Linked DNA regions of Homo sapiens: region 2 is linked to region 1. The links come from fine-mapping of genetic effects on gene expression. Tissue or cell type: atrial appendage. Region 1 holds a variant in brackets; the other region holds the start of a gene. All regions are shown on one strand. Distances are from middle to middle.

Evidence for each region. PIP is the estimated chance that this variant, and not a neighbour inherited with it, causes the effect.
Region 2: it holds the start of CECR2, and the variant in region 1 is fine-mapped to the expression of CECR2 in atrial appendage (GTEx, PIP 0.94).

Annotation. Positions count from the first base shown.
Region 1 is chr22:17,402,646-17,405,402 of GRCh38, reverse strand. The region is part of intron 1 of CECR2 (CECR2 histone acetyl-lysine reader); the gene reads right to left. Among named protein-coding and RNA genes, the nearest start is that of CECR2, 35 kb to the right of the region's middle. The variant CATCTCCCAA/A (reference allele first, on the strand shown) is at 1,378.
Region 2 is chr22:17,368,358-17,371,114 of GRCh38, reverse strand. CECR2 (CECR2 histone acetyl-lysine reader) reads right to left here and starts at 1,655. Exons shown (of 19, transcript NM_001290047.2): 1 at 1,206-1,655. The coding sequence starts at 1,331. RefSeq lists silencers at 1,218-1,317, 1,328-1,397.

The sequences.
Region 1 (2,757 bases):
TTCGCTCTCGTTGCCCATGCTGGAGTGCCATGGCGCAATCTCGGCTCACTGCAACCTCCACCTCCCAGGTTCAAGCGGTTCTCCTGCCTCAGCCTCCTGAGTAGCTGGGATTACAGGCGTCCACCACCATGCCCAGCTAATTGTTTGTATTTTTTAGTAGAGACAAGGTTTCACTATGTTGGCCAGGCTGGTCTTGAACTCCTGACCTCAGGTGATCCGCCTGCCTCAGCTTCCCAAAGTGCTGGGATTACAGGTGTGAGTCACCATGCCTGGCCTAAAACTTTCAAAAATGTATAATAGCATCAAAAAGAATGAAATACTTTGGGATAAATCTGACAAAAGATGGGAGATACCTAAAGAGTTGAGAATTTGAATATAAAACTTTTCTGTCAGAAATCAAAGAAAACCTAGAGAGAGAGAGGTACCATCATCATGGGTCAGAAGACTCAATAGTGTTAAGAGGCCCATTTTCTACAAATTGACCTAGATATTCAATACAACTCCAATCTAAATGCTAGCAGGCTTTTTTTGTAGAAACTGATAAGCTAATTCTAAAATTCATATGGAAATATAAAAAATATAAAATAGCCAAAGCAACTTTGAAAATGAACAAAGTGAGAGGACTAACATTATTTGATTTCACTACTTATTAAAAGCTGCACTAATTAAGATACTGTGATATTGTCTTGAAAACAGAACAGAGTGAACAATGACATAGAACAGGGTCCAGGGCCAGGCGCGGTGGTTCACGCCTGTAATCCCAGCACTTTGGGAGGCCGAGGCGGGTGGATCACGAGGTCAGGAGATCGAGACCATCCCGGCTAAAACGGTGAAACCCCGTCTCTACTAAAAATACAAAAAATTAGCCGGGCGTAGTGGCGGGCGCCTGTAGTCCCAGCTACTGGGGAGGCTGAGGCAGGAGAATGGCGTGAACCCGAGAGGCGGAGCTTGCAGTGAGCCGAGATCCCGCCACTGCACTCCAGCCTGGGCGACAGAGCGAGACTCCGTCTCAAAAAAAAAAAAAAAAAAAAAAAGAAAGAACAGGGTCCAGAAATGAACCCACATGTATATGGAAAACTGACTTGGGCAACTAATAAAGGATAGTCTTTTTTTTTTTTTTTTTGGCAGGGGGGTCGGGGGGATGGGGACAGAGTCTCGCACTGTCATCCAGGCCGGAGTGCAGTGGCACGATCTCGGCTCACTGCAACCTCCACCTCCTGGGTTCAAGAGATTCTTCTGCCTCGGCCTCCCAAGTAGCTGGGAGTACAGACGTGCAACATGACGCCCGGCTAATTTTTGTTATTTTTAGCAGAGACGGGGTTTCACCACATTGGCTGGACTAGTCTCAAACTCCTGACCTCGTGATCCTCCTGACTC[CATCTCCCAA/A]AGTGCTAGGATTGCAGGTGTGAGCCACTGTGCCCGGCCAGGGTGGTCTTATCTACAAATGCTACTAAACACATGCCCCCTCCCCACTCAAAAAAAACCCCACCAACTTCGATCAGTACTTTATATCATATGCAAATTATCAATTCAAAATGAAGCACAGACTTAAATGGTAAATCTAAAACAATAAAACTTCTAGAAGAAAATGTAAGAAACAAACCTTTGTGACCTTAGATTAGGAAAAAGCAAAACCAGAATATATAACAGCTCAATAGACAAAGAGTCCAATTTTAAAATGAGCAGAATACCTTAACTAGAAGATCACCAAAGATATAAATAGCTAACACAGAAAAAGGTGAACATTATTAATGATAAGGGAGATGCAGATCAAAACCACATTAAAATAGCCCTTCGCCCCCCACTACTGAATAGTGATAAGCAAAAGGACAGGAAATAACAAGTATTGATGATGTGAAAAAACTAGAGCCCCTTATTCACTACTGTTGAAAACAAACTGGTGTGTTTACTTTGGAAAACAAGTTTGCCAGTTTCTTTAGAAGTTAAAACATAACTCCAATTCTACTACTAAGTATTTGTCCAAGAAAAAAAGAAAGCACACACTTACAAGCAAATACGTGCAGCTATTATCTATAATAGCCCCAAACAAAAACAATCCAAAAGCAAAAACAATACATCATCTGGTGAATGGATAAAAAGTGGGTATAGCCAAACAATGGCAGTACCAAAAGAAAAAAATGAGGACATGTCTAAAGGAGAAAGGAGTCAACCTGAAAGAATTTCCAATGGCCAAAGCTTGAAATAATTTGAGCAGCTAAGTAAACAGTATTAGATTCAAACCCAAAGGATAAGTATCAATGAGTCCACGCTGATGACAACAGACTTAAGGAGACATGCGATGTCAGGTGGAATGCAGGAACAAATCTTGAAATGAAAAGATGGGGAAACTGCCGGGTGCGCTGGCTCACGCCTGTAATCCCAGCACTTAGGGAGGCCGAGGCGGGTGGATCGCCTGAGGTCAGGAGTTCGAGACCAGCCTCAACATGGAGAAACCCCGTCTCTACTAAAAATACAAAATTAGCTGGGCGTGGTGGCACATGCCTGTAATCCCAGCCACTCAGGAGGCTGAGGCAGGAGAACTGCTTGAACCCGGGAGGCGGAGGTTGCAGTGAGCCGAGATTGCGCCACTGCACTCCAGCCTGGGCAACAAGAGTGAAACTACGTCTCCAAAAAAAAAAAAAAAAAAAGAAGAAAAGAAAGAAAGAAAGAAAAGAAAAGATTGGGAAACTGTTGGAATCTAAACAGTCTGAAGTTTAGTTCATAGTACTGCACCAATGTGAATGTCTTAGTTTTAAC
Region 2 (2,757 bases), 34 kb after region 1:
GGCAAAGAGCTCTGAAATAAACGAGTTAAAATCAACCCGAAAATGGCACAAAGTAAGATCCGTGGGGCTGGGGAGGCAACAACAACGATTTGCTCTTCCAAAAGAGTGGCTCTAATTTTGATTACTGCGTCGGCGAACCCATCCGCAGAACAGAAAACAAAAACTGACCAACGCAGTTGCCATTCACCTTTGTCCAAAGGCAAAAGGTGAAAAGTCACGACACATATTGCCATAGAAGAGAAGGCAATTCAACCTGCCAACCAATCGACTAATTCTCAGCTCCTTCCAAAAATAAAAATAAAAATAGGAGAAAGGGGGCTGCCGCTGGGCTGGCCGATGCCTGGCCGCCGAGTGCGCCGCGCTCCGCAAGCTCCCGCCACCCGCCGCGCTCCAGGACCCTCGGGTTTCGGCCCAGTTATCACAAAGCCCCGGGCTGGAAAACACCTCCGGCCTGGCCAGAATGGCCAGCCCGTCCTCCGCGCTCGCCCGGGGGGATAATGGTGGCGAGATCAACTCCAAGGGCTCCCGAGCCCCGCGATAAAGAGGCTGGATATTACGGGAGGAAGGACGCTGTGGAAGAATAACGGAGTCCCAAACTTTCCTTCCACACCTCCAGAGCCCCGCGCCCAGGCCCGGTCCCCACCGGCCCGAAGTTGGCCGGAGCGCCTCCCGGGAGCTTGGGGCCTCCGGGAGCCCCTGCCACGCGCCCGCCCGCCAGAGCGGGGCTAGCCCTCCCCGCCGGCCGCGGCCGACTCCCGCCCCGGTCCGAGTTAATCCCGCGCGGGCCCCCCCCCCGCGCCCGGCCCCGCCGGAGCAGCTGGCTCGCGCCTCAATGGCACCGGGCGGCGAGCGCGCGCAGCCCTCGCGCCCACACCCAGCCCCAGCCCACCGGAGAAGTCCCGGGAGGGTCGCCGGGTCCCGCTCCCGCTCCCTCTCCCACAAAAGCACGGGCCCGCCCCGCCCTCGCGGTGCCTGCTCCTCCACCCCAGGATCCGGCGTCCCCGGCCCGACGCCCCTCGGCACCCGGGCACAGCCCGGCGGCCCCCGCCCGCCCTCCTGCCCTTTTGCGCCCTCCTCCTGGCCCCCGACTCCCGGCCGAAGTCCCTCGGGCCCCGGCCCCTCTGCGCGACGGCCCGGGACACCCCGCGCGGGGCAGGGGGAGCAGGGGGCGCAGCGCGCCGCCTCCCGCCCGCGCGGCCACTCACCTCGATCTCGAAGTCGGGCAGGCGGAACGCGGTGCGAAAGAGCGAGCAGAAGTGCGCGATGGCCGGGACCTCCCACCAGGAGCGGAGCTCGCCCAGCCCGGCCGCGCCGCCCTCCTCTGGGCACATCTCCCCGCTGCGGCACAGGCGGCGGCCCCTCGCTGCCCGCGCTCTGCCCGCCGACCTGGGACTCCCGCCGCGGCAGCGCCGCAGCCTCCGCGCGGTCCTCGGCGGGGGCGGCGGGGCGCTCCTCCCGCTGCTGCCGCCGCTCGGCGAGTGCAGGAGCCGAGGGCGGGCGCCGGGCGGGGGGCGGCGGCGCGGGGGCCCGAACTACTGAGGCGGCTGCGGCTGCGGCTGCCCGCGGGGTCCGCGCGCTCGCCCCATCCCGCGGCTGCGGCGGCGGCCGCCCCCAGTCCCCTACAATATAATCGAGTCCCCGCCGGAGAAACAGATGGGGCTAGGGGCGGAGGGGCCGGACGCGGGGCCTGGGGGAGGGGCCGCCCACGAGGAGGGGGCGGGGCTGCCCGCGCCACAACAACAACCCCCGCCCCCGCCCCACCCCCGCCCGGACAGCTGCACCGCCAGGGAGGGGGAGGGGCGGGGCGCGCGCCCCCGGGCCCAGATCCGCAGGACCCAGGGGGCGCGGGCCGCACCCCCGAGAACTCTCACGAGGCGCCCTCCGCCCTCCAGGACTTTGGGACTGGGGAGTTGAAGCACTTTCCCAAGGGAGGACGGCCAGGAGCTCTCCCACCCCCACTTGGCCTGAGTGGTCGCGTCCTTTTAAAGGGCCCGCGGGGTGGTCCTTTCGGTCGGGCTAGAGACAGAAACGTGCACGTGTGGGAGTTCAGTTATTATTGATGCCGAGGGCAGAGCCGGAGCAGGAGCGGGCTGTCCACCCTAGAAATATGAAGCCTAGAGAAGTGAAGTGCTTTCCACCTGTTTCTTAACGCTTTTATTCCAGCCGAGAACGGCGCCCAAGGAGCTCTGAAGTGGCTTTTTTCTCCGAGGGAAGAAGGCGGTGGGGCTGATTGAGCTGGAACGAAGTAGGATGGAGGCTGGAGAGCGGCGGGAAGGGTGGGGTAGGGGGAGGCACCAATCAGCAGCCAAGCGGGAAGAGCGATCCCCAACCCCAGGGAATGGACACGTGTGACCGCCCCGGAGAAGACGGGCTCGGAACCCTGCTACTGCCCGGCCGCTGAAAGAGCTGCCTGGAAGAGTGAGCACAATGTGCTTGGAAGGCGGGGGGATGGGGCAGAGGAGATCGGGAAGCCGGGGACTGTGCTCGGAGGGGAGGAGACCCCCACGCCCCGGCGGAGGGATTGAATGTGCTACGGCCGAAGGGTGTTGGAGTGTGTGCTTTAGAAATGCTAACTGCTGTAGCGCGGTGGAGTACTGCTAAATCCTAAGAAAAAAAATCACCCCAGAAACAGGCTAGAAGTTTGGAAAAACTCCATTGAATGCTCAGATATTTGTATTGGTCGTCGCACTTGCATCCTGCTGGTCTCAGAGGGCCGCCTCTGAGTTCGGTGGTCCACCTTTCAGATAGGAAACACTG